Regions from separate parts of the Homo sapiens genome. Here regions 2, 3 and 4 are each reported to be linked to region 1. The links are microRNA targets in miRTarBase. Many come from high-throughput screens and were not tested one by one. Region 1 holds a microRNA gene; each other region holds the end of a gene's coding sequence.

Evidence for each region. Region 1 holds the annotated microRNA hsa-miR-6893-3p (CCCUGCUGCCUUCACCUGCCAG, at 3,288-3,309, shown strand). A microRNA usually pairs through its seed, bases 2 to 8, with sites in the 3' UTR of a target mRNA and lowers its output. Matches are read on the target gene's strand: a 7mer-m8 pairs with bases 2 to 8, a 7mer-A1 pairs with bases 2 to 7 and ends in A, and an 8mer does both.
Region 2: miRTarBase lists DST as a target of hsa-miR-6893-3p. The part of its 3' UTR that is shown has no 7-base or 8-base seed match.
Region 3: miRTarBase lists IFNGR2 as a target of hsa-miR-6893-3p. Seed matches in the 3' UTR shown: 7mer-m8 at 5,630-5,636.
Region 4: the mRNA of KANK2 is a reported target of hsa-miR-6893-3p. Seed matches in the 3' UTR shown: 7mer-A1 at 4,603-4,609.

What each region holds. Positions count from the first base shown.
Region 1 is chr8:144,431,743-144,438,859 of GRCh38, reverse strand. MIR6893 (microRNA 6893) reads left to right here and starts at 3,241; the gene lies at 3,241-3,309. TONSL (tonsoku like, DNA repair protein) reads left to right here. Exons shown (of 26, transcript NM_013432.5): 12 at 125-207; 13 at 300-389; 14 at 1,761-1,833; 15 at 1,940-2,103; 16 at 2,179-2,302; 17 at 2,442-3,202; 18 at 3,310-3,386; 19 at 3,690-3,843; 20 at 3,971-4,049; 21 at 4,581-4,882; 22 at 5,101-5,272; 23 at 6,400-6,575. TONSL-AS1 (TONSL antisense RNA 1) reads right to left here and starts at 3,692. Exons shown (of 6, transcript NR_109770.1): 1 at 3,420-3,692; 2 at 1,865-2,109; 3 at 1,114-1,161; 4 at 527-632; 5 at 78-183.
Region 2 is chr6:56,453,249-56,460,365 of GRCh38, forward strand. DST (dystonin) reads right to left here. Exons shown (of 104, transcript NM_001374736.1): 103 at 6,883-7,006; 104 at 4,748-6,019. The coding sequence ends at 5,757. Among named protein-coding and RNA genes, the nearest start is that of COL21A1, 210 kb to the left of the region's middle.
Region 3 is chr21:33,435,620-33,442,736 of GRCh38, reverse strand. It overlaps IFNGR2 (interferon gamma receptor 2), which reads right to left. Exons shown (of 7, transcript NM_005534.4): 7 at 5,221-5,909. The coding sequence ends at 5,775. It also overlaps a transcript of TMEM50B not described here. Among named protein-coding and RNA genes, the nearest start is that of IFNGR2, 36 kb to the right of the region's middle.
Region 4 is chr19:11,160,155-11,167,271 of GRCh38, forward strand. It overlaps KANK2 (KN motif and ankyrin repeat domains 2), which reads right to left. Exons shown (of 13, transcript NM_001136191.3): 13 at 4,116-6,457. The coding sequence ends at 6,404. Among named protein-coding and RNA genes, the nearest start is that of SPC24, 7.9 kb to the left of the region's middle. RefSeq lists an enhancer at 6,092-6,592.

The sequences.
Region 1 (7,117 bases):
AGAGCTCAGCCCTCCCGTCTCTGGCTCCTTTGTACCTGGGAGTTTGGGGAGCTTGCAGCAGGGTGGGGGCTGCTAACCTTCACCTCCCACGGACTCCCCTGGGGTGGGCTTGGCTCTGTTCCAGAGGACGACACCGATGGCCTGACCCCGCAGCTGGAGGAGGACGAGGAGCTTCAGGGCCACCTGGGCCGGCGGAAGGGGAGCAAGGTGAGGACAGTGCCCTGCCCCCACCCACCCCGCTCAGCAGCCCTGCCAGCTCCTCACGCCCCTGCCCTGTGCTGGGTTGGCTGTGCCCACAGTGGAACCGGCGAAACGACATGGGGGAGACCCTGCTGCACCGAGCCTGCATCGAGGGCCAGCTGCGCCGCGTCCAGGACCTTGTGAGGCAGGTGGGCCCCGCTCTGGGACGTGGGACAGGCTGCCTAGCATGGAGGAGCTGTGCGTTTGTGCCGGATCCCCTATCTCTGTAACTCTCAACTTCCTCATCTTCAAAATGGGGCCCCTTAGCAAGCATGGTGGCACTTGCCTGTGGTCCTAGAGGCAGGAGGATCACTTCATCCTGGGAGGGAGATTGAGGCTGCAGGAGTCGCGATCATGCCACTGCACTCCAGCCTGGGCAACACAGTGAGACCCTGTTTCAAAAAAATTTAAAAAGCGGAGGCTGCACGGGGTGGCTTATGCCTGTAATCCCAGCACTTTGGGATGCCAAGGCAGGCAGATCACATGAGCCCAGGAGTTCGAGACCAGCCTGGGCACCCTGGCAAGACCTTGTCTCCAAGAAATTTAAAAATTAGGTGGATGTGATGGCGTGTGCCTGTAGTCTCAGCTGCTTTGGAGGTTGAGGTGGGAGGGTTGCTTGAGCCTAGGAGGTGGAGGCTGCAGTGAGCCATGATCTTGCCACTGCACTCCAACCTGTGTGACAGAGCAAGACCCTGTCTCAGAAGAAAAGCCACAGGCCGGGTACAGTGGCTTATGTCTATAATCCTAGCACTTTGGGAGGCTGAGGCGGGCGGATTGCCTGAGGTCAGGAGTTTGAGACCAGTCTGGCTAACATGGTGAAACCCTGTCTCTACTAAAAATACAAAAATATTAGCTGGGTATGGTGGCACATACCTGTAGTCCCAGCTACTCGGGAGGCTGAGGCAGGAGAATCGCTTGAACCTGGGAGGCGGAGGTTGCGGTGAGATGAGATTGCGCCGCTGCACTCCAGCCTGGGTGACAGAGCGAGACTCTGTCTCAAAAAAAAACACAAAAAAATGGGGTGCCCAGGCTGGGCGCGGTGGTTCATACCTGTAATCCCAGCACTTTGGGAGGCCAAGGTGGGCAGATCACGAGGTCAGGAGCTTGAGACCAGCCTGGCTGGTCTCAAAAAAAAAATGGGGTACCTGCTGTGTGGTATGCATCTGTGTTACAGCTAAGTTGGTCAGCCTGGCCAGGATGGGGGCTAGCCCATGGGCTGAGATCTGGGCACCTTCCCGCCCCGCCTGCCTCATGCCCCTGCGACCAGGTGCACTGTCTCCCCACAAGGGGACCGGGCAGGCACAGAGGCGGAGGATATGCTGTGGCTGGTCCACCTGTCTCAGGGGGAAGCATGTCCTTCACTGGTGACACCTAGGCCGGAGGAGGAGAGGGCAGGGCCACGGACTTGCTCTGGGCTCTAAGACTGAGGCCCTGGGCTCAGCTTAGGCTGCAGAGCTCACGGGGCTGGGGCCAGGCTGTGAGGTACACAGGGCCAGGCTCCTTCCTGTCCTTGGTCACAGGGCCACCCCCTTAACCCTCGGGACTACTGTGGCTGGACACCTCTGCACGAGGCCTGCAACTACGGGCATCTAGGTGAGCAAGGGACAGAAGGAGCCTGGCGCACCTTGGTGGACACGTGGGGCGAAGAGTCAGTCCTGGCGGGGCATCGGGAGCTGGGCTTACGTCTCCTGGTCTGCAGAAATTGTCCGCTTCCTGCTGGACCACGGGGCCGCAGTGGACGACCCAGGTGGCCAGGGCTGCGAAGGCATCACCCCCCTCCACGATGCCCTCAACTGTGGCCACTTCGAGGTGGCTGAGCTGCTGCTTGAACGGGGGGCGTCCGTCACCCTCCGCACTCGAAAGGTGAGCCTGGTGGGGCAGAGGGCAAGGGCGAGGTTATGGGGGCTGCTGTGCCCCTGCTCAACTGATGCCACACAGGGCCTCAGCCCGCTGGAGACGCTGCAGCAGTGGGTGAAGCTGTACCGCAGGGACCTGGACCTGGAGACGCGGCAGAAGGCCAGGGCCATGGAGATGCTGCTCCAGGCGGCTGCCTCGGGCCAAGGCAAGCAGGGCGTCCCTTGTCCCTGGGGTTGCTGTGCCTACGCTGAGAGTCCCCGGGCCCTGATTTCGGGAGATGCTCCATCACAGGTGGAGCGGGAGGTGCCGGGCCCCTGCCTCAACACGCATTCTCTCTCCCACAGATCCCCACAGCTCCCAGGCCTTCCACACCCCAAGCAGCCTTCTGTTTGACCCCGAGACCTCTCCTCCTTTGAGCCCCTGCCCAGAACCCCCCTCTAATAGCACTAGACTCCCAGAGGCCTCTCAGGCCCATGTCAGGGTCTCCCCAGGGCAGGCGGCACCAGCCATGGCCAGGCCTCGGAGGAGCAGGCATGGGCCAGCCAGCAGCAGCAGCAGCTCAGAAGGCGAGGACAGCGCAGGCCCCGCACGGCCGTCCCAGAAGAGGCCTCGGTGCTCGGCCACAGCACAACGGGTGGCAGCCTGGACGCCTGGCCCCGCCAGCAACAGGGAAGCAGCCACAGCCAGCACCAGCCGGGCAGCCTACCAGGCAGCCATCCGGGGTGTGGGCAGTGCTCAGAGCCGGCTGGGGCCTGGCCCACCGCGGGGCCACAGCAAAGCCCTTGCCCCCCAGGCAGCGCTCATCCCGGAGGAGGAGTGCCTGGCCGGGGACTGGCTGGAGCTGGACATGCCCCTGACCCGCAGCCGCCGGCCCCGCCCCCGGGGCACTGGAGACAACCGCAGGCCCAGTAGTACCTCTGGGTCGGACAGTGAGGAGAGCAGGCCCCGTGCCCGAGCCAAGCAGGTCCGCCTGACCTGCATGCAGAGTTGCAGTGCGCCAGTTAACGCAGGGCCCAGCAGCCTGGCTTCAGAACCTCCAGGGAGCCCCAGCACCCCCAGGGTCTCAGAGCCCAGTGGGGACAGCTCTGCGGCAGGCCAGCCCTTGGTGGGTATGCAGACCTGGAGCAGAGCCCTCTCCCCACTCCGGGCAGGCAGGTGTAGGGTGGAGCCCACTGTGGCTCCTGACTCAGCCCTGCTGCCTTCACCTGCCAGGGTCCGGCCCCGCCCCCTCCCATCCGGGTTCGAGTTCAAGTTCAGGATCATCTCTTCCTCATCCCTGTCCCACACAGGTGAGGCATCGCCTGCCCTACCCCGCAGCCCACCTGTGCAGCTCCATGCCAGGGTGCTCGTGTTTGCATGTCAGGGTGGGGCGTGTGACGAGGGCTCCCTGGTGTGTTCCAGGAGGATCCTGTGGCCCCCAGGAATAGCAGAGGGGCTGGTGGTGTGCTGGGCTGCAGGGAGAGGAGGGGCCGGCTACCTGGGAATGGGAGAAGCAGCTGAGGGGGCTTCTGGCCCTGGGCAGGGATGGCGGGTCCCTGGGGCATTACCCCGGCTGTGTGCAGGCAGCAGCAGCAGCGCCTCTGTCCCTGCAGCAGTGACACCCACTCTGTGGCCTGGCTGGCCGAGCAGGCGGCCCAGCGCTACTACCAGACCTGCGGGCTGCTGCCCAGGCTCACCCTACGGAAAGAGGGGGCCCTGCTGGCCCCACAGGACCTCATCCCTGATGTGCTGCAGAGCAATGACGAGGTGAGCCGCAGAGCGGAGGGGGAGCCAGGGCCTCAGGCACCGGGAGCCCCCGGGTGGCTCATGGCTGCAGAGCAATGATGAGGTGAGCCGGGGGAGCCCCCAGGTGGCTCATGACGGTGCCTTCCAGGTGTTGGCTGAGGTGACTTCGTGGGACCTGCCCCCGTTGACTGACCGCTACCGCAGGGCCTGCCAGAGCCTGGGGCAAGGTGAGGGCCAGGAGAGCTGCAGTTTCTGGGTGAGGTCGTACAAGGGGGTTGGGCACACAGGCTCCACCAGCCCGGTTCATTCCTGGGCCTCGGGTGTTTTGGGGTGCACCTCCCCCAGCCTGGTGGGTGCTGTGTCCTGCACTTGGATGTGTGGGTGGAAGGGAGAGGACAGCCCTCAGCCCCCATGATCTGCTGACAGGGAGATGGCAAAAAGCAGCCGAAAGCCTGGAAAGTCAAACCCAAGGAGGAGGGCCTGGCATGGGCTGGGAGCTGCTGGGGAAGCTTCCCAGAAAGCTTGTCCCGGGGGGTGTGGAATCTGGCAGTGACTGGTGGAGCTCAGGGTGCTGCAGACCCACCCCGGCCCCCAGGGCCTCACAGTGCTAGACCCACAGGCATGTGCGAGTGGGCTCTACAGCAAGTCTGGTGGGTGACCCCTGGGGCTGTTGAAAAGGGGCTGCCTGGTTTGCCCTCTGGGATTCAGAGGGCAGAAAGGGCCGGCCTTACCCTGGTGACATCACATCCCTCCCGCAGGGGAGCACCAACAGGTGCTGCAGGCCGTGGAGCTCCAGGGCTTGGGCCTCTCGTTCAGCGCCTGCTCCCTGGCCCTGGACCAGGCCCAGCTTACACCCCTGCTGCGGGCCCTCAAGCTGCACACAGCACTCCGGGAGCTGCGCCTGGCAGGGAACCGGCTGGGGGACAAGTGTGTGGCTGAGCTGGTGGCTGCCCTGGGCACCATGCCCAGCCTGGCCCTCCTTGACCTCTCCTCCAATCACCTGGGTCCCGAAGGCCTGCGCCAGCTTGCCATGGGGCTCCCAGGCCAAGCCACCTTGCAGGTATAGGCACAGAGAGCAGCAGGCCCTCAACAGCGGGGAGTTGGGGTTCCCATTCTGCAGGTCCCTGGGTGGTCTAGGGTAGTTGGGAGAGCCAGCCAGTGCCCGGCTGTAATAGGCTATGCCAGGCAAGGTGGGGAAGAGACTGCCAAGCCAAGCCCCAAGGGGGACCCTGTCCGTGGGACTGCTGGGGGCTCACTGCCAGCCTGTGTCTTCCACAGAGTTTGGAGGAGCTGGACTTAAGCATGAACCCCCTGGGGGACGGCTGTGGCCAGTCCCTGGCCTCCCTCCTGCACGCCTGCCCCTTACTCAGCACCCTGCGCCTGCAGGCGTGTGGCTTCGGCCCCAGCTTCTTTCTGAGCCACCAGACAGCACTGGGTAGTGCTTTCCAAGGTGAGCTGACCAGGCACTCCCTGTCCACTCCCTAGCCCTGGGGCATTGAGGGTTTCCAGGACTTTCAGAGGGGGCCCAGGCTGGGCACACAGGGGCAACACCTGTGGTCCCAGCTACTTGAGAGGCTGAGGCGGGAGTATCGCTTGAGCCAAGAGTTCCAGGAAAGCCTGGCCCACATAGTGAGACCCCATCCCTTAAGAAAAAAGCGTCTAGGCCGGGCGCAGTGGCTCACGCCTGTAATCCCAGCACTTTGGGAGGCCAAGGCGGGCAGATCACGAGGTCAGGATATCGAGACCATCCTGGCTAACACGGTGAAACGCCGTCTCTATTAAAAATACAATTAGCTGGGCGTGGTGGCCGGTGCCTGTAGTCCCAGCTACGCAGGAGGCTGAGGCAGGAGAATGGCATGAACCCGGGAAGCGGAGCTTGCAGTGAGCCGAGATCGCGCCGTTGCACTCCAGCCTGGGCGACAGAGCAAGACTCCGTGTCAAAAAAACGAAACAAACAACGTCTAGGGGCCTGGGATGCCAGACCTGGCTCTCCGGGAGGGCCTGGCACCTGGGAGCAATAGATGGATGTGTGGGTACAGGGTCTGCCTCCGAGGGGCGTCTGGTGCCCACCCAGCCAGGCTGACCCCCGCAGGACACACCGAGAGCAGAGTCCGGGCAGCTAGTGTCCTGTGGTCCCCATCCCGTGCTCGCCAGCTGAGTGCTGTTCGCCTGAGGCAGTTCCACTGTGAGCCCACTCAGGCTGCAGAGACTGGGGTCCCAGTGCCAAGAGGCTGGGAATTGGGTGTCATCCAGGGGGAGTGTAAGGGGGGCAGCAATGGTCAGTGCACTCCCCTGGCACCCCCACTGTGCAGAGGCATGTGGCCCAGGACCGTGTGGTTGTGGGGTGGGAGAGGGCAAGTTGTCCAGAACTGGGGGCAGCCGAGCTTGGAAGTCTGGCCCCGCCCTCCCAGCTGGGAGAATCTGGGCGAGAGCCTTTGCCTCTGCACTTGCCACCCCACCCTGCGAGCACTGCGGTAGTGGTTTCCCCAAAGGGGTCCTGAGGGTTCTGGGCCCAGAACTTGGGGTGGGTACAGGGCTGTGGCCACGTGGGGCTGACGGATTCTGGCCCCGGTGCAGATGCTGAGCACCTGAAGACCCTGTCCCTGTCCTACAACGCCCTGGGAGCCCCTGCCCTGGCCAGGACCCTGCAGAGCCTGCCCGCCGGCACCCTCCTGCACTTAGAGCTCAGCTCCGTGGCAGCCGGCAAGGGTGATTCGGACCTCATGGAGCCTGTATTCCGATACCTGGCCAAGGTACGAGGTGGGGAAGAACCCAGAAAATACTGAGCCTCAGAGGCCAAAGGTCCCAGGGTTGCTGGGAGGAGCTCGCCTCTCCCCAGATTCGGGCTGAACTCGCTGAGGGGCTCTACAGAGAGAGTTAGAGGTTTGGAGGTTTAGAAAAAACAGCTGGGGGGCCAGGCGCGGTGGCTCACGCCTGTAATCCCAGTACTTTGGGAGGCCGAAGGGGGTGGATCACAAGGTCAGGAGTTCAAAAGCAGCCTGGCCAACATGGTGAAACCTTGTCTCTAGTAAAAATACAAAAATTACCCAGGCGTGGTGGCGGGTACCTGTAATCCCAGCTACTCGGGATGCTGAGGCAGAGAATTGGTTGAACCCGGGAGGCAGAGGTTGCAGTGAGCCTAGATTGCACCATTGCACCCAGCCTGGGTGACAGAGCGAGATTCCGTCTCAAAAAAAAAAAAAAAGAAAGAAAAAGAAAAAAACAGGCTGGGCGTGGTAGCTTACGCCTGTAATCCCAGCACTTTGGGAGGCCGAGGCGGGCGGATCACGAGGTC
Region 2 (7,117 bases), not on the chromosome of region 1:
AATTTTGCTACTCTGGAAAATCCAGATGTGGTATAGCTTCCTGAAAGAGGCCATGAACATGTCTTCCTTATGAAGTTACCATCTTTTTAGAAAAGAATGCATAAGCCCTGGTATAAGGGTGAGGGGCAGTGGAATGATCATTGGTCTCAGCCTGAAAAGATCTATCTACTCAGTCATTTTCTAGCTGTGTGATCCTGGACAAATAAAAACCTCTCTAGCTTCATTAAAATTATTTATACAATTCAAGTGATATTTATTTACTATTTCATTGGCTGGTTGAAAACCTTGTATGAGAATTAGAGCTTTATAAACCAAAATTGACACATAAATGTAGGGCTTCAAAAAATCACTATGAGCATAATGAAGTGGCTAAGACACAAAAGGTTGCCCAAGAGAAACAACTCAAAATTAATCCATGATCAGATATGGCACTGTAAAGTCTAAGAAAACATTGCTCCAAGCCTATTATATTCCTCTGAATTCACTGGTCCATTCTCAAGCAAGTATGCTGTGACGAGACTACTGACCGGGACATATGTCCATTGGCTGGTTATTTTTGAAACAAATTTTCCTACACTGGATAATTAAAAACACAGCTATGTACATTTGTCTTCCTGGTTGGCCCTCCTTTCAGAAATGGTCTTTATGTTAATTCATTTTTAACTCATGCCCAGAGACATTTCTGAAAGTATATACCAAAACACTATATTTCTGCCTCCTTGAAAAGCCAGAGCTACACACACACATACCGCTAAGCCTACTTGGGGCTTTGAAGCACAACCAACTGCAGCTGAAAGGCAGGCTCTTGTACTCTCTCCCTCACTCTAGGGACTATTATTGCTTTCTCCATGCAGATTCTGCTATAAGCACAATAAAAATCAATGAAGACTTGGAACAGCTAAGACTAATATTTAAAAAAACGCTGAGGCTCCCGAAGTTCACATTCTTGCAAATTTTAGATAATGCCCCAAATATAAGTCACTCTTGATCATATACACACTCCTGTGTGTGCAAGCATAGTGTTCTAGCTTTCTACCACTCTGACCCAAATACTCACCCACGGTGTGCCTTCCTCCCAAATCCTTTCCTCTGGGTACCCTAAAACCTGCTTCTGAGGTAAAAGCCCATCCTAGAGCCCCCGCTTCCTTCCATTGCTCTGTTGAGCCTGACTGAAGAAACCAACTGTAGATCAATGAACTTTCTGTCACCTCTCTTCCTAAACCAGGCCATACACTGGAGGCCAGGATAACTATCAGTCCAGGGCCTTGGCTACTTCTAACCTTCTCTGGTCAAGTCAAAAATCTGTCTTCCAATTTACTGAGATAAATAAAGAGTGCAGGGTAACTCCCTCAATGTCTCTTCTCCCATTTCAATCTCCCTTTCCTCCAGTCCTTCATATCAAAAGGCACGTCCTTCCCCATAAGACCAGTTCCTCCAAGCTGATGTCTAGAGGAGAAGACATTGAAAATGAGGAAATCAACAGATGGTCGTTGTAGTAATACAAGTGAGAGGTAACAAGGGCTGGAACTAGAACTGAGGCTTCAAGAATGTTAGTATGTCCCCTCAGCCTCCCTCAACTGGAATTTTCAGAGAACCGGCAATCAGTGATATAACCACTAGCACAGGTGTGCATGCCCTTGCAAAACTAGTATCAGAGGAGAAAGGAAGAAACTTTACAGCATACTTCCATTCTCTGGAAAAAGATGGTTGAGAAGAGGCAGAAAGAAGAAAATAGTATAGAACAATGATCCCTAAAATTAGATTATGTAAAGTAACTTCATAGAATGTTGGAAGAAAATGTCTATTTATATTTACATTTCATCTTAAAAGAGGAGGAAATTACCTTTACTAACATTTACTACAGACTGACACTGCTACCATCTCTCCAGTGACATCGACATCGTTTGCATCTTCTCACGATCTGTAGCTTAGGTGACCCAAGGGCAGAGTGGAAGTCCCAACAGTTCCCACACTCTTTGGGTTGCTTTTAGCATGCAGCAAACCGAAGTTTATTTATGTCAAGTTGGGTGAATGTACAGATTTTTATTAACTCTTCTGAATTAAATAATCTTTACAAAAAAAAAAAAGGCTTAAACAGATCCCTGCAACAGAACCGTGGATTTAAGATGTTTATAATGCAAGAAACAAACAAGCAATAAGAAAAATGGCAGAGACAACGCTTCTCCTAGAACAAAGGAGTTAAATATCAGGCGTTAAACCAGAGAGAATCTCATCTGATTTGGCAAAACTCAGCCACACCAGGAGTTAAACCAGAAAGAGTCTCATCTGATTTGGCAAAAACTTGGCCAAAATAATTATGAAGACTATTTGAACTAAGGATGTACACCAATGTTGTTAGGATAAATTTTAAGATTAGAGTGAGCCCTGAGAAATTAGCTAATGATAAAATATGTGCAAATAATATCTTGGGATAAATTAATATATATATATATGGGGGTGTTTGCACAGAAAAACTTTTACTGATAAGAAGATGCCAACCAAGAAGTCTAGAGGCCATTGGCATAGAAGTTGGAGTCTAAGGCTGTGGGAACTACATTTCCTAGTCTTTGCGCTGGGGCAAAAATAACTGTACTTTAAGATTAGTAACATTCTAAAAGAATGTTTTATTTTTATTTGGGGGAAATTGTTGAAAACTTCTTAACCTCTATTTTATTTTCTTCTCTGTTAAAGTCTTTTAATTTGCAATAATGAAGTATGATAAAAATGTGGGTAAACTAATATTATTCCCTTAACACACTTTGCTTTACATATATTCTTAACTTAGCACATGAGAAGTAGTAGCAAGAAAAAAAAGAAACCTATTTTTGTTATACTTCACCCTAGCTAGACACTCAACATCTACATAGACGTTAAGAGTTACATAAAATCAACCAAAGTTGCAGAGTTTGGTAGGTTAAGTCAGATATTTCAAATAGTCATACAAACTATTTCCTGCCCAAACACCTTGTCCTTTACTCTACTGACTTCCAAGCAGATTTTGGTAACTGACAAGTCCATCCTCAACATGCCTGAAAGGACCTTAGTTACTAAAGTATTATACTAAAAGACAAAGCTCAAGTGTCTTTGCCTTCTTTGTGGGACCCCAGTGGCAGTGGCATCAGACATACACAGACAAGCAGGCATGGCAAATGTACTGTTTGGTGGTATCAGATCACCATTTAACAATAAAAACACACATTTCAAAGCACCTTGTCAAAAAGGAATAGATAACTGTATCTCATTACAATTTCCCTTACTACAAATACGGAAAGCAACTTTTAAAATGATCCAAAAAAGGAAACAAGATCCTTTCTTCTCCTCCGCCTCCTTTTCATTTTACAGGTCAATCCCGGACAGCCATGGGGGCACTTCCCAAACTCTCCCACCTATATCCGAGACTTGGCCAGGCCCATCTACTTCTGCACGGATGTCAAAGAGGACAGTCCACTATTTCCAAAGAAGGTAGCAGTACATGCGAATTAGGAGCTTTGATTTTTAAAACAAAAAAAGTCCACGATTCAACTTCCCTAATGCTTAAGATTCAATTTTTCCAATTAAGATTTTTAGAGTTGAGATTCACTGTAGTGTTCTTTTTTTTAAAGAAAAAAAAAAAAAAAAAAACGAAAAAAAGAAAGAGAAAAAGAAAAGAGAAGGAATGTGTGTAGGGTGGGGAAGAGGTTTCTGTTACATTAACTGAAACTTACAGGACACTAGAGAAGTCAGCCTGAGGCTCTAGGACTATTAGCACAAGAGGAAAGAAATGAGTAGGCATCATGTCAAAGTTTGAAAAGCTCACCTGGGGCAAATACTGACAACTGGGAGCAGTTCCTTAAGACTTCTCTTATTTTAAACCACTTATCTTTTCCAAAAAGCTTATTTTACTACTTAAAAAGAAAAACCCCTAGCTCTTTCGGAGGGGTAGCATAGAAACAGACTGAGATAAAAATCATTGCCTTAAATTTGTCTTTGAAGTGGAAATGTGATCATATGCAAAGCACTAAAGGAATAAAAACAATTTCAATTGCCTTCTAAGATGACATGTTAATAATCAAATGCATGAACTAAATAGCATGTGATCTCATAGGTTAGAATTCCCCTTCTCATCAAGGGCTCCCACCTGAGACCCATGCCTGGACAAAGAAGGGATTACTATTGCTTAAAAATAGCACCTAATTTATGCCAATAGAAACTCCAGGCTCTTCAGTGTTGGCCTCCACTGAAAAGGCCAAGAAAGAAAAATGTAATAATGTTCCCTTGAATCTGAACACCATCAGTGACATTTGCTACAGCAAATCCACAAAGTTATGCAGAATGTTGGGACCCTCATACCTAAAGTTACAACCTGCCATCCTTCTGAGGATATCTGATACTATTTTCATATTCAGGAAAATTTTACAATTTGACTTTTAAATGTACAGAGGCCAGAAGAATACTACTATATTACCTTAATTAAATCTGTAATCCTGCCACACATCCCTTGCTTTTTAGTGACTTATTAACTGATTCCCTCTTGAAGAGGGGAGGGCAGGAACCTTATAGTTTCATGTCACTTACAATGGCTGGTGCATGGCTAATACTTATTAGAAATATTTGTTGAAAGAGTGGTTAACATTATTATAACTCCCTGTTTTTGATGTCCCCCAAATTTACCCTATTTGTTTCTTAGTAAACATATATCATACATATAACCTTTATTTAAAACAAATAATAGAAGAAGTTCACTTTAAATAATCAGGTATTCCATATATTCAAGTGAATATGTTTTATTAAATGCATACTAATATCTTTCTATAGTATGTGAGTACACATAATAAATTAAAATGTATATATTTATTAAATATAGATAGATATAATACCAGAACATGATTATTTCAGATGAGAAATCAAAATAAACCCATTTTTAAGTATCTTTTGGTCACTCCAAATTGATATTGCTCATAAAAAAATACACTAGTTTTCCCTGGGGAAAAAAAATTAATTCCATAGCAATGCAGTTAAGGGACGTGTTTTATTTCATAGCTTTCTGCAAGCAAAATTGCTCTGATACAAAATGAGTTCAATGATACAGGTGCTACTGTCCACTCAAGCAAAAGAAAACCTCACATGTATATGAACGCACTTTATACTTATATTCTTACAGTATAATAGGTCTAATATCCAGGATGCCTCTGGCCTCATTGAAAGCAATGGCAGAGAAATGCTGCAAGGTACTTGAATATCATAGTACTGGCAAGTGCTTGAAGTAACTTCCTGTGAGTTCTCTGTCAGATACTGCAAAGACTGCGTGTGGGTGTGTTTGTCTTTTTGTCTTCCATCTTTTGGTTTACATTTAAATCATCTCAAAAAATATCCCCTGCATGTATCATTCAGCTTCTCAGAGTTTCCATAAAAACAGGAAAATGTCATGAGGTATCCCTAACGTCAGGGATTGATGTAGTGCTGTGGCTGTCAGAGAGGATGTAGACTTACCTGTAGGTACAGTAACTGAGTTTAGTGTGTGCCCGGCACGTTACAGTGCAGAAATGTTAGTTCATGTTAAACTTTTCCTCCTCACATATGATGTGACTTTAACCCCAGAATATCTGACAAAAAAAATTATACAGATAAAATAAAAAGACAAATACACAAATAAGGCCATCTGCAGAATTTTAAACTCGCCTCTTGCAATATTTCACAAGAATTTCTACACCATATTTTACATCGTTCAAACTTAAATAATAAATGCTCAAGGAAGGGCCTTGGTAGAACCAATTGCACTATCTCTTTGAGGACTTGTCCAATTTGCTGGCAGGTGATTTCCTCTGGGGCGTGGGGATTTTTGAAGGCTTCGCTGTGGATGGCCGAGAACCTGCTCGGGGTGTAGGTCTGTGTGTCTGGGGGACAGTTTCCACATCTGAGCACACGGACTGGATTTCTGAAATGTCAAAGTCTGATGCATCACTGCCTCGGCGGCTGCTGGCCCTGCTGCCAGCTTTGCTTCCAGCTCGACTTCCTGGTCGGCTGGGAGTCTTCTTGGAATCTGAGGAAAGAAGGTAGAGACAGCTCACCCTTATTATTGGGTCCATCTGCAACTAATTTTTGAAACCCGATGCCACCTTTAATCTTAACTTTTTTTCCTGGTGTGTAGTAGGCACTCAGAAAACAGTTGTGGATTCACAGCCTTTCTCTATTACACAAGGGTATGCAGGCTTACTCTAAGTAGACATAATATAGAAAAGGCTAGATTTCCAACTACAAGGTAAGTTTCGGCTTCCCCTACTTAAAACAGGATTCCATTTATTGCAAACAGACATAAGGAATATACCTATCCTTTAAGATTGTGCTTTCTAAAGTTTAAATTATGCCTCCAGGGATGCGTGTGATGCAAACATAGAACAAACAAGACAGGTTTAAGTCTTGCCCAAGAATAGGTAACTCCAAGAATGTAGGAATTCAACAGATGAGATTGGAAACTTTAAAGAGGCTTCTTGCTTGCTGAGCTCAGAACCCAGAGATTAGTAGGTTCATTATTTTGCGAAGCAATGTGAGCTACACTGGTGTGAGGCTCAGTGTGGCTGGGTTCTTCCAACCACCCCAAAACAGGGCCCTGTGCAATCGCTGAGCTGGCAGAAGAGCCAAAATCTTTCAGCTTGAAGGGGTAGAATACCACTGTATATTTTCCTCTGTTGTACAGTAATTCTTTCATCTTTCTTGGACACTTTTAGACACTTGCACCCATGACTCACTTTATCCCCAACTTTTGGAGGACTGGGGCTACATATCATTTTAAGACTACCTCAGGGTCAATTTGTAATTTCTTCCCCAATGAGGAGGAAAAGGGACTTTAATCCTCAGATGACCATGCTGCAAAAGCCATTGAAAAAAGAAAGGCACCACACTCACCAGCAAACTGTGTTCGGACTCTGGCAGCTGCAGTTGTTATCAAGCCACTGTCCTCCCCAGAGTGGAAGCCTTTCCCTGATAAATATCCTGGAAGTCGAAGCTTGCTTCCTTGTATTGGCGTTCCCTGTATTTAACCAGCAACAAGACATTTCAAAATATTGCTCCTGTACCATGATATTCCACTGACACCACTTCTTTACATATGGGTGGAAACTCTCTACTATTCCTCTTTAGG
Region 3 (7,117 bases), not on the chromosome of region 1:
GTTGGCCAGGCTGGTGTCGAACTCCTGACCTCAAGTGATCTGCCTGCCTCTGCCTCCCAAAGTGCTGGGATTACAGGCATGAGCCAGCGCGCCTGGCCACATATCATTTGATGTTTATGTTGTAGCTAGGTATATGGATGTAAAGTAACCCTGAGGGTCTGCCTCCCTCCTCTTTTTTTGATAACTGAGGGGCCCAGAGAAGCTAGTGCTGCCTGTATTTCTACAATGGGATGAATTTTTAGGCTATCATTTTTTAGGAATGTCTAGGTGTCATTCCTAGAGCATTGGCAAGTTGCCCTGACCAGAGTCCTCTCCTTAGCAACGGGTGGCTCTGAGGCCCCAGGTCCCAAGTAACCACTCTGACCAGTTTCCATACCCTCTCAAGCGTAGCCAGCTGTTTTCCCTCACCACAGACTGGAAACAAGGAGAAAGACGTCACTTTCACTTCATTCCCGTGGGACAGTCCTTGAGTCTCAAGGGAGGCTGGGAGTGGCAGTGAAGGGTGGGGAGGCATGACTGCATCTCCGGAAGCTGCTGGGGTGGAGTCTCACTTCTCATCAAACAGAAGGACAGCTGGGGATGTTCTCATCTCAAATAGAGACTATTTGGCAAACAGCAAATATATTTTGAAGGGCTCTGGGCGCCTCAGAGATGTGACTGCATAGTGTGGAAGTTGTCAGAATCAAAATGGAGTCACTTGTGCTTCAAACAAACAAGCAAACAAATAAAAAACCCTGACAAATAGAGCTGGGGAAGGCCATGAAGGATTCTCATGCAAAAATGCTTGATAACAAAAATGATCACAAGGCCGGGCGTGGTGGCTCATGCCTGTAATCCCAGCATTTTAGAAGGTTGAGGCAGGTGGATCACTTGAGGTCAGGAGTTCAAGACCAGCCTGGGCAACATGGCAAAATCCCATCTCTACTAAAAATACAAAAAATTAGCCAGGCATGGTGGCGGATGCCTGTAGTCCCAGCTACTAAGGAGGCTGAGACAGGAGAATTTCTTGAATCCAGGAGGCAGACGTTGCAGTGAGCTGTGATTGCATCACTGCCCTCCAGCTTGGGTGACAGAGCAAGACTCTGTCTCTAAATAAATAAATAAATAAAAATGATCACAAAAGACTGCAAAAATCTCAACCTTGCACAAAGCCCTTCACCGCCTTACACAACAAACACTTCTATGAGGACATCTGCCCAACAACTGCCTGTCTAACCTTGGAATGGCATCCCCCTTGCTATTGATCCTTATAGCCAAGGATAATTATCTTAAAACAGTGATCTAATCCTCATTTTTTCCTTTAAGAACCTTTGTTTTCCTTCACCTTCCTAAATATGTACATAGTTTACTCTGGCACACGTGTTCCCCTTGTAATACCCTATTCCCAAATCAGTATCATTTCCTTTCAGAGAGCCTCTCTCTGTTGTGGCACTTCAAAGACATAGTGGCCATAGTGACTATGCAGGCTTCTTTAAATGTTATGTACCAAGAAGTCCTTTTTTTTTTTGAGACAGATTCTTGCTCTGTTGCCCAGGTTGAGGTGCAGTGGTGTCATCTGGGCTCACTGCAACTTCCACCTTGTGGGTTCAACCGATTCTCCTGCCTCAGCCTCCTGAATAGCTGTGATTACAGGCACCTGCCACTGCGCTGGGCTGATTTTTGTATTTTTAGTAGAGACAGGGTGTCACCTTGTTGGCCAGACTGATCTTGAACTCCTGACCTCAGGCGATCCGCTCACCTGAGCCTCCCAAAATGCTGGGATTACAGGTGTGAGCCGCCGTGCCCTGCCAGAAGTCCATTTTATGTGATTTAAACACTATGGACAGAGACGTTATTTTATTTTATTATTATTTTTTGAGACAGAGTCTTGCTCTGTCGCCCAGGTGGAGTGCAGTGGTGCAATCTTGGCTCACTGCAACCTCTGCCTCCCAGGTTCAAGTGATTCTCCTGCCTCAGCCTCCTGAGTAGCTGGGATTACAGGCACACATCACCACGCCCAGCTAATCTTTGTATTTTTAGTAGGGACGGGGTTTCACCATGTTGGTCAGGCTGGTCTCAAACTCCTGACCTCATGATCCCTCCTGCCTCAGCCTCCCAAAGTTCTGGGATTACAAGCGTGAGCCCCCGCACCCGGCCTATTTTATTATTATTTTTGAGACAGAGTCTCGCTCTGTCACCAGGCATGCAGTGGCACGATCTCTGCTCACTGCAACCTCTGCATCCCAGGTTCAAGCAATTCCCTTCGCTCAGCCTCCTGAGTAGCTGGGATTACAGGCATGCACCACCATGCCCAGCTAATTTTTGTATTTTTAGTAGAGACGGTGTTTCACCATGTTGGTCAGGCTGGTCTCAAACTCCTGGCCTCAAATGATCCGCCCACCTCAGCCTCCCAAAGTGCTGGGATTACAGGTGTGAACCACTACACGCAGCTTACCTTCTGGGTTCTAATAAATATTTATGAACAGTGAAATTTGAATATCATAGAATTTTCATGTGTGATGAAATATTCTTCTTTTGACTTTAACTATTCCAAGATGTAAAAGCTATTCTTAGCACACGGGTTTTACAAAAACAGGGAATGGGCTGATTTGGCAAGTAGGTTATGGATTATGCCCTGTCAACGGATTATTTATAAGAGTGCTTCCAACTCAAAAATTTTGACAATGTACTTAGCTTGACTTTATTTTTCTTGAGACAGAGTCTTGCTCTGTTGCCCAGGCTGGAGTGCAGAGGTGCCATGTCAGCTCACTGCAACCTCCGCTTCTCGGGCTCAAGTGATTCTCCTGCCTCAGCTTCCCAAGTAGCTGGGATTACAGGTGTGAGCCACCACGCCCAGCTAATTTTTGTATTTTTAATAGAAACAGGTTTTCGCCATGTTGACCAGGCTTGTCTCAAACTCCTGACCTCATGATCCACCCACCTCAGGGTCTCAAAGTGCTCGGATTACAGGTGTGAGCCACTGCGCCTGGCCTTGACAGTGTAAATACTAATCCCATCAATTAGTCATTTATTTTACTAAGGAGAATGAGGCATTTCATTTCAGAAAATACTATTTAAGGCTGGGCACAGTGGCTCACACCTGTAATCCCAGCACTTTGGGAGGCTGAGGTGAGCGGATCACCTGAGGTCAGGAGTTTGAGACCAGCCTGACCAACATAGTGAAACCCCATCTCTACTAAAAATACAAAAATTAGCTGGGTGTGGTGGCGCACATCTGTAATCCCAGCTACTCTGGAGGCTGAGGCACAAAAATCGCTTGAACCCGGAAGGCAGAGGTTGCAGTGAAGTGAGATTGTGCCACTGCGCTCCAGCCTGGGCAACAGGGTGAGACTGTGTCTCTAAATAAATAAATGGGGTGGCACAGATGCACTTACCCTAACAGAGTTGATTTGCCCTCTGTCCTGCTGGGCTGAAACTCTTTCCTGTTCTCCTGCTATAGATGTATCCTCCACTCCTCGCTGGCCACCATCCTGCTGCCCAACAGAAGAAGCTCTTCTGTCTCCGATTTCCTGAACGGTCTAAGGTAAGTCTTTACAACTCCTATCTACAACTTCTTCCTCCAAACTTGTCTACTTAAGGTGCACCTAATGCATACAACAGATGCTTCACAGGGAGACTTGTGTGCATGGGGTGGGAGTGGGCCTTGTTTTTCTAACTCTTGCCACTGCAGACAGCATGGTACACAACACTTAAGAGAGTTAGCCACTTTTGCCGGACACGGTGGCTCACGCCTGTGATCTCAACCCTTTGGGAGACCAAGGTGGGTGGATCATGAGGTCAGGAGTTCGAGACCAGCCTGGCCAACATGGTGAAACCCCATCTCTACTAAAAATACAAAAATTAGCCAGGCATAGTGGTGCACGCCTGTAATCCCAGCTATTCGGGAGGCTGAGGCAGGAGAATTGCTTGAACCTGGGAGGTGGAGGTTGCAGCGAGCTGAGATCGCGCCACTGCGCTCCAGCCTGGGCGACAGAGTGAGACTCTGTCTCAAAAGAAAAAAAAAAAGCCACTTTCTTACCAGCAGTACAGGGCCCCAACTGCCTCCCATGTAGCTGGGATTATAGGTGCCTGCCACCACACTCAGCTAATTTTTGTGCTTTTAGTGGAGACAGGCTTTCACCATGTTGGCCAGGCTGGTCTCGAACTCCTGACCTCAGGTGATCTGCCTGCCTCGGCCTCCCAAAGTGCTGGGATTACAGGTGTGAGCCACCGTGCCCAGCCTATAAATGGATTTTAAATACATATCCTTTGAACAACAGAGCCCGACAGTACTGACACAATCAGATGACTTGCGTGCTCAGTAGATAACATTACTATTGATTAATCAGTTAATTCTCTTTATTGCCCACAAATCCCTGCCTTGGTCAACACAGTGTGACTTGTCACATATAAATGAAGTGCTAATGTGCCTTCTGCAAATCCCCCTTATAACTTTTATATTTTTGAGACAGGGTCTCTTGCTCTGTTGCCAAGGCTGGAATGTAGTGGTGTAATCATTGCTCACTGCAGCCTTGAACTCCTAACTCCTAGGCTCAAATGATCCTCTGGTCTCAGCCTCCTGAGTAGCTGGGACTACGGGTGTGCACCACCACGACTAGCTAATTTTTTATTTTTTGTGAAAACAAGGTCTCACTATGTTGCCCAGGCTGTTCTCAAACTCCTGGCCTCAAGCGATCCTCCCATCTTGACCTCCCAAAGTGCTGGGATTACAGGCATGAGCCACCATGCCCAGCCCTCTTTTTTTTTTTTTTTTTGAGATAGGGTCTCGCTCTGCCTCCCACGCTGGAGTGCAGTGGCATCATTTCGGCTCATGGTAACCTCCGCCTCCCAGGCTAAAGCATCCTCCCACTTTAGCCTCTCAAGTAGCTGGGACTACAGGTGCATGTCATCATGCCTGGATAATTTTTGCATTTTTCATAGAGACAGGGTTTCACCATGTTGCCCAGGTGGGTCTAGAACTCCTGGCCTCAAGTGATCCACCCACCTCAGCCTCCCAAAGTGCTGGGATTATAGGCGTGGGCCACTGCACTAGGCCCTGGCCTTCTTTATAACCTTTGGAGGATCAAGTGACATCCATAGGAAGTGTTTGCTGAGTTCCCATGAGGCCTCAGTAGCTCTAGCAGGTGTTATTTAAGAAAAAACAAGTTTAGATTGAGTAATTTTAGAAAGCTGAAACTCTGCAGAAAATAGGCTACAATAAAGAAAACACTTCACATAGACTTTAAAAAACATGCACTATACAATCTTTTATTTCCAGTTTAAAAACAAAATCTTAAATTACTAGGAGTATATTTACAAGATTAATTACATTTTAAGCCAGCACACCATGGATGTACATGAAGGGCCACTCGGTGTCCCTCGCTGGGACAGGTTGTGTGACCTGCCCAAGGGGCTCCGGCTCATTTGCCAAAGTCAAGACGACGACCAGGTCTTCTGACTGCTCAGCCCAACCAATAATGAAAAAAGTATCAGAGATGTGTCATATCCATTTTGCTAACAAGCAATTACATGCCTTTTTAGTGTTTAAGAGAAGCCTTAATTTTCCTGGGATATCTCCGTAAAATCATTCTGGAATTTGATTTTGAAAATTCTTTAAGAAAAAAAAAAAAAGCTTGTCACCCCCATGAGACCTGCTGTCTCTCATGTCTGCAGGGACAGGCCTTTTAGAGGCAGCAAAAGGGAATACTGGTCTCTGGAAAGTCCAGACAGAACTCTAGCAGCTCCGATGGCTTGATCTCTTCCAGGGAGCCAGTGGGCTAGGCCCATGCTTTGGTTCAAAGCGTTTGGAGAACATCTTCTTGCTCCTTTTCCGGAAACGAGATAATGGACACAGAGTCCCAGACGTCATCCTTTGGTGAGCTGTCCTTGTCCAAGGCCTCTAAGATGGGCTGAGTTGGGTCTTTTAAATACTTGAGGAGGTTGGAAAGCAAAATTGTAATTAGTTTACCAGTTCAGTATACCAGACCTTTTAACTTTAGTTTTTGTTTTTATTTTATTTTTATTTTTATTTTTTTTTTGAGATGGAGTCTTACTCTTGCCTAGGCTGGAGTATAGTGGTGTGATCTCAGCTCACTGCAACCTCTGCTTCCCAGGTTCAAGCGATTCTCCTGCCTCAATCCTCCAAGTAGCTGGGACTACAGGTGCCCACCACCTTGCCTGGCTAATTTTGTATTTTTAGTAGAGACAGGGTTTCACTATGTTGGCCACGCTGGTCTCAAACTCCTGATCGCAAATGATCCACCCACCTTGGCCTCCCAAAGTGCTGGGATTATAGGCGTGAGCCACTACGCCTGGCCTACTTTAGTTTTAATTGGTATAGTTATTTTATTCAGATATAAGTTGATTCTGTCCACCAATGACATAACTTATTTTTCTTTTTATTCAACAATGAAACAATTTTTTTTTTTTGAGACGGAGTTTCACGTTGTTGCCCAGGCTGGAGTGCAATGACACGATCTCATCTCACTGCAACCTCTGCCTCAGCCTCCCAAGTAGCTGGGATTACAGGCATGCACCACCACACCCTGCTAATTTTGTATTTTAAGTAGAGACGGGGTTTCCCATGTTGGTCAGGCTGTCTCGAACTCCTGACCTCAGGTGATCCGCCCGCCTCGGCCTCCCAAAGTGCTGGGATTGCAGGTGTGAGCCACTGCACCCGGCAACAATTTTTTATTGTTGTTGAGTCAGTCTCTTTTTCGCCCAGGCTGGAGTGCAGTGGCGCGATCTCGGCTCACTGCAACTTCCGCCTCCTGGGTTCAAGCAATTCTCCTGCCTCAGCTTCCCAACCAAGTAGCTAGGATTGCAGGCGTGCACCACCACGGCTGGCTAATTTTTTTTTTTTTTTTTTTTTTTTTGAGACGGAGTCTTGCTCTGTTGCCAGGCTGGAGTGCAGTGGCGTGGATCTCAGCTCACTGCAGCCTCCGCCTCCTGGGTTCAAGTGATTCTCCTGCCTCAGCCTCCCAAGTAGCTGGGACTACAGGCGCATGCCACCATGCCTGGGTAATTTTTGTATTTTTAGTAGAGACAGGGTTTCACCCTGTTGGCCAGGATGGTCTCGATCTCCTGACTTCATGATCCACCCACCTCGGCCTCTCAAAGTGCTGGGATTACAGGCATG
Region 4 (7,117 bases), not on the chromosome of region 1:
CTAAGAACCCTTCTTGGCTCACAAAGCCAGAGGAAACTGACACGAGTAATGGACCTTCTGCCTAGAAATACACTCCTTAGCATAACATTTCTGGGTCTTCCAAAAACCTTCTGTTATCTCCTGACTGAACAGCCTAGTGGATAAACAGAGGAAATGAGAAGTCAGGAGATATGATTACCGCTGGGAGATCTGAGGGGAGGGGCCCGTGGGCTGCTAGGGCCAATGATATTCCTTTTCCAGTTCTGGTGCCGGCAACTTGGGGGTGCCGTTTGCAAAAAAGCCATGGAAGGAACTGTACACTTTTGTGCACCATTTGTGCACAGAATGTATTCATTTTATACCTGAAGAAAAAAGAACTGTAAAAAAAAATTAAGACCAAATATATTAGAAAAAGATTTGGTAGGAGATGCTCCAAACTGTTGACAATGGTATTCCTACCAAGTGGGATTATGGCATGCTGCAAGGACTAAACACTGCTGTATTGTTTGAATTTTTATTTTTATTTTTAGATGGAGTTTCTCTCTTGTTGCCTAGGCTGGAGTGCAATGGCGTGATCTCGGCTCACCACAACCTCCACCTTCCAGGTTCAAGCAATTCTCCTGCCTCAGCCTCCTGAGTAGCTGGGATTACAGGGGTGTGCCAGCACACCCGGCTAATTTTGTATTTTTAGTAAAGACAAGGTTTATTTTTTTCTTTTTGAGATGGAGTCTCACTCTGTCGCTCAGGCTGGAGTGCAGTGGTGCGATCTCGGCTCACCGCAAGCTCCGCCTCCCGGGTTCACGTCATTTTCCTGCCTCAGCCTCCCAGTAGCTGGGACTACAGGTGCCCACCACCACGCCTGGCTAATTTTTTGTATTTTTTTAAGTAGAGATGGGGTTTCACCGTGCTAGTCAGGATGATCTCGAGCTCCTGACCTCGTGATGTGCCCGCCTTGGCCTCCCAAAGCGCTAGGATTACAGGCGTGAGCCACCACTCCTGGCCTTTTTTTTGTTTTTTGAGACGGAGTCTCACTCTGTCACCCAGGCTGGAGTGCAGTGGTGCGATCTTGGCTCACTGCAAACTCTGCCTCCCGGGTTCACGCCATTCTTCTGCCTCAGCCTCCCGAGTAGCTGGGACTACAGACACACGCCACCACACCCAGCTAATTTTTTGTATTTATTAGTAGAGATGGGGTTTCACCATGTTGGCCAGGATGGTCTCGATCTCTTGACCTCGTGATCCACCCGCCTTGACCTCCCAAAGTGCTGGGATTACAGGCGTGAGCCACCACGCCCGGCCAGAGACAGGGTTTCGCCATGTTGGTCAGGCTAGTCTCGAACTCCCGACCTCAGGTGATCCACCCGCCTTGGCCTCCCAAAGTGCTGGGATTACAGGCGTGAACCACTGCACCCGGCTCGAATTTTAACTTTTTTTTTTGAGACGGAGTCTCCCTGTTGCCCAGGCTGGAGCACAGTGGCACAATCTCGGCTCACTGCAACCTGTGCCTCCCAGGTTCAAGCGATTCTCATGCCTCAGCCTCCTGAGTAGCTGGGATTACAGGCGTGTGCAAATGCACCTGGCTAATTTTTGTATTTTTAGTAGAGGCAGGGTTTCACCGTATTGATCAGGCTGGTCTCAAACTTCTGACCTCAGGTGATGCCCACCTTGACCTCCCAAAGTCCTGGGATTACAGGGGTTAGCCACTGTGCCCGGCTGAATTTTGACTTTTATAATAAATCGCTATAAATTATTTGGCATTAGAATACAAAAGTCACCGAAGAGCCAAGTTTTAGGCCAGGCATAGTAGTTCATGCCTACGATCCCAGCACATTGGGAGGCTGAGGTGGGGAGATCGCTTGAGCCCAGAAGTTTGAGGCCAGCCTGGGCAGCATAGAGAGACTCCGTCTATACAAAAAATAAAAAAAATTAGCCAGGCATGGTGGCACACACTTGTAGTCCCAGCCACTCTGGAGGCTGAAGTGGGAAGATTGCTTGAGCCCCGGAGGTTGAGGCTGCAGTGAGCTATGATCGCACCACTGCACTCTACCCTGGTGGGCAACAGAGTGAGACCCTGTCTCAAAAAAAAAAAAGAAAAGAAAAGAAAGAAAAAGATTGATTTTTTTTTCCTGAGGTGTTCACAGCAGGTGTTCAACAAAACTTTGTACGATGGCAATATTCAGTATCTCTGCAAGTCAATACAGTAGCCACCAACCACGTAAAGCTATCGAGAACTAATTATAATTCATTGACTTTATTTATTTACTTATTTTTGAGTTGGAGCCTCACTGTCGCCCAGGCTGGGGTACGGTGCTGCAATCTTAGCTCACCGCAACCTCCGTTTTCCATGTTCAAGTGATTCTCATGCCTCAGCCTCCCCAGTAGCTGGGATTACAGGCATGCACCACCATGCCCAGCTAATTTTTTTCTATTTTTAGTAGAGATGTGGTTTCACCATGTTGGCCAGGCTGGCCTCAAACATAAATGATCCACCTGCCTCAGCCTCTCAAAGTGTTGGGATTATAGGCGTGAGCCACCGCGCCAGGCATAATTCATTTACTTAAGATTTTTTTTTTTTTTTTTAGAAACAAGGTCTCACTCTGTCACCAAGGCTGGAGTGCAGTGGGACAATCATAGCTCACTGCAGCCTCGAACTCCTGGCCTCGAGTGATCCTCCCACCCGCCTCAGCCTCCTGAGTAGCTTGGGACTACAGGCACAAGCCACCAAGCCTGCTAATTATAATTAATTAATTCATTCATTCATTTATAGATGGAGTCTTGCTCTGTCACCCAGGCTGGAGTGCAGTGGGGCAATCTCAGCTCCCTGAAACCCCCGCCTCCTGGGTTCAAGTGATTCTCTGGCCTCAGCCTCCCGAGTAGCTGGGACTACAGATGCCCGCTACCATGCCCAGCTAATTTTTTGTATTTTTAGTAGAGACAGGGTTTCACGATGTTGCCCAGGCTGGTCTTGAATTCCTGACCTCAGGTGATCCACCTGCCTCAGCCTCCCAAAGTGCTGGGATTACGGGCGCGAGCCACCGCGCCCGGCCTCATGTACTTTTAAATGAAAATAGCCACATGTAGCTAGCGGCTACACTATTGTTGGGTGCTGGTCTAGGACAGAGCATGAAGGTGTTTACTGTGATATTCTTGCAACTGTTCTGTAGCTTTGAACACTCTCCAAAATAAGTCCATTTTGAAAAAGAGATTTGCAGCAGCTCACGTGTGTAATCCCAGCACTTTGGGAGGCCGAGGTGGGAGAGTGGCTTGGGCAACATAGCAAAACCCCGTTTCTACAAAAAATTTAAAAATTAGTCCAGGCGCAGTGGCTCACGCCTGTAATCCCAGCACTTTGGGAGGTCGAGGCGGGTGGATCACTTGATCAAGGTCGGGAGTTCAAGACTGGCCTGACCAACATAGTGAAAACCCATCTCTACTAAAAATACAAAAATTAGCTGGGTGTGGTGGTGGGTGCCTCTAATCCAAGCTATTTGGGAGGCCGAGGCAGGAGAATTGCCTAAGTCCAGGAGGCGGAGGTTTCGGTGAGCCTAAATCACACCACTGCACTCCAGCCTGGGAGACAGAGGGAGACTCCGTATCAACAACAACAACAACAACAAAAAGTCAGGGGTGGTGGCGCAGCCTGTGGTCCCAGCTAGTCGGGAGGTTGAGGTGGGAGGATCGCTTGAACCCTGGAGGTAGAGACTGCAGTGAGCTATGATTCGCACCACTGCACTCCAACCTGGGAGACAGAGTGAGACTCTCCAAAAACAAAAAGTGGTGGCTCACACCTGTAATCCCAGCACTTTGGGAGGCTGAGGCGCGTGGATCATCTGAGGTCAGGAGTTTGAGACCAGCCTGACCAACATAGCGAAACCCCCGTCTCTACCAAAAATACAAAATTAGCCGAGTGTGGTGGGCACCTGTAGTCCCAGCTACTTGGGAGAATCGAGGCAGTAGAATCACTTGAATCCAGGAGGCAGAGGTTGCACTGAGCCAAGATCGCGCCACTGCACTCCAGCCTGGGTGACGAGAAGCAAAACTCCGTCTCAAAAAAAGAAAAAAGAAAAAAAAAAGGAAAGATATCTATCTTAAAGCTTAAAAGGGAGCACAGCGAAAAAAGAAAAGACACAGAATCATCAACATTATTGGTAGCTTTATTAAATTTGTTTACCTTCTAAAAAAAACGATTACAAAAAAGAATACTTCATTTAAGTGTAATACTGGCTTTATGGACGTACCGTGATCAGAAAGTGAAATTAAAGCTCATGGATATGCGTGAGAAGAGAATGGGCGCAGAGGCACGAGTCCAGTATCCCACGGAGAGAAGGAAGTGTAGAGAGATGCGTGGACCCATCTCAGGGGTCACGCATTCCTGGGCCAAGGAGTTGCTTCTAAGAGCTTAAAATAAATGCACTGGCTGGCTCCAGGGCTGGACACACAGGCACAGAACTCTTGTACCGCTTCTCAAAGCTGCCCAAAGCTGCGACCTTCCCCCTCAGACACCCACAATTAATTGTTTCCAATCAGCTTTGGTTTTGTTTTCTCTGCAATTTACATGCAAACACCATCTATCTATTCATCCATCCATCCATCCATCCATCCATCCATCCATCCATCCATCCATCCTGCTTGTCTCCTTTGACCAGCCAAGCCCTATTTTGTTTTACGTACATTCCCTTCACTAAAAATCAAAGCAAGCCAGTCTACATCAAGCCAAGAAACCTACTTTTCTAAGGAGAGAAACCAGTGCTTTGCCTTCTTTAATGAACCTGCGAGCTCTCAGCGCTTTCTCTTGCTGAAATGTGGCTTTAAAGCCTTGGAGGCTGAGCTCACTGGCCTCGAAAGGGCAGCGCGCGTATTTGGTTTGGAGCGCACTCCTGATCACAAAGCACATTTTTAGAGGCTTGGAACCCTTCCCTTTCTGTTGCTCACCAAGGAAAAGGCACAAGAAAGACAATGATGTGGAGATTCTTAGGGGACCAAAACAGGCCATGAAGGAAACTGTGAGTGTCTCTGGCAAGCCCCGTTTCCCGCAGGCTCTGTTCCAGGCAGCTCCGGAAAGTCTCTAGGTTGTTAAAAAGCCCAGCTGGCCCATGTTTGGTTTTCAGCAAAGCCCTGTCTCTTGAAGTTTGCGCTGGGAGGCCTGGGGACGGCCAACTTTTAATCGTACACACATGGGGTTTTTGGGAGCCGGCCCTGCGTTTTGCCAACAAGCGCATGCCCTGTTTTCTTTCCTTTGAGGAGAGAAATTCTGGAGTCCCGGGGAGGAACAGGACGGCCCTGTGACCATAGTCTGGGGCCTGGCGGCGGGGACGCAGAAGCCACCCTGAGAGCCAGATTCTTTTCCTGCGTCTTCAGGTCTGAAGGATTTTCTAGGAAAATTAACATTTGCCAAGGCCTCCATGTGGGGAAGGGAGGGGTTTCTGGGTAATTTGTCTCTTTTTCTTTTCTTTCTTGAGACAGGGTCTCGCTGTGTCGCCCAGGCTGAAGTGCAATGGTGTGATCATAGCTCACTGTAGCCTCGACCTCCAGGGCTCAGCCTCCCAAGTAGCTGGGACTACAGGCGCGCACCACCACGCCTGGCTAGTTTTTAAATTTCTTGTAGAGATGGGTCTTGCTGTGTTGCCCAGGCTGGTCTTTAACGTCTAGGCTCAAGCTCAAGCTCTTGCCTTGCCCTCCCAAAGTGCTGGGATTACAGACGTGAGTCACCACGCCTGGCCGGTAATTTCTCATTGTGAATTGATTGGGTCCCTGTAAGTCACAGAGCCTGTCCTGAGTCCCTTCATCTGAATGAGGGTGAAAAGACTGAGTTTTCTGTCCCGGGTGACAAGGACAGAATCTGTCTTGTGAAACAACCAGAAGAAAATTCCCCTAAGAAAGCCGTCTAGCGGGGCAGTGGACACAACACTATTCTATATCAGACAATTAAATGTGGGGGATGAAGGGTGAACCCCAACTGGTGCGTAATAACACTTAGGATTAAAATGAAAATATGCAAGTTCCAGTGACTTTCAAATCTGGCAACAAATCCTAAGATTCCCACCCCCTCCTGCAACAATGATTCAAAAATACAATATTTTTTTCCTCTCCCTCTTCCTCCATCCATAATTACCAGCTGATTGTTCTCAATGTTCTTCATAAAACCCACACCCCAGCATCAGCCCTGGCGCCAATGTATACAAGAATTTTGCTTCGGTCTGCGCTGTGGCCACTTTGAACAGGGGAGCCAAGAAAACCCACTTGGAGCTGGAGTCCTGTGGCCGTCGGGGCTCCCCCAGGGAAGCAGAGGGAGAGCTCGCTTGCCTTTGAGCCGTGGGCCTTGGGGAGTGTGAGTGGGGTGGGCCAGGGAGGAACGGGAACAGGGAGGAGACGGGGACAAGGGACGGTTTGCTCCCGGTCTGGCTGGTCCCCGCCTCCCTCACGGCTACTCTTCTGCCGAGGATGATGTAGGGCTCTCGTCATCTGACATTGGGGCAAACTGAAACAGAGAAGCAGAATTCTTTTTGTTTGGGATCCTTTCCAATCCCCCGAGGCGCCAACGTGGTGGCTGGCCTGGTAGATATGATGGGTAAGCAGGAGGGAGGCGTGGCCCCTGGCCCCAAGGAGGTGGCGATCTGGGGGCACCGCCTTGAAGAAGCAAACTCATGACTGTGGTTGAGGATGTTCACCGGGGGTGAGGGATGCAAAGGAATGAGGGTGGACAGTGGCTGGTCAGGGAGGGTGAGTTCTCAGCTGACTGTGAACGGCATCAAGGAGCCAGCGAGCAGGGAAGAGCATTCCAGGCAGCGGAAACAGCACGTGCAAAGGCCCTGGGATAAGTGCAGAGGGGTGTGGCAATAAGGCCAGTGTGGCTAGAGGGGGAGAGAAACAGTAGTGGGGAAGGTGAGGGTGGTTGTGCAGGGCCTGGTGGGCTTTGGAGAGGACCCTGGCTTTTTCTTTTCTTTTTTTTGAGACAGAGTTTCACTCTTGTTGCCTAGGCTGGAGTGCAATGGCATGATCTCAGCTCACTGCAACCTCTGCCTCCTGGGTTCAAGTGATTCTCCTGCCTCAGCCTCCTTAGTAGCTGGGATTACAGGCAGGCGCCACCACGCCCGGCTAATTTTGCGTTTTTAGTAGAGATGGGGTTTCTCCATGTTGG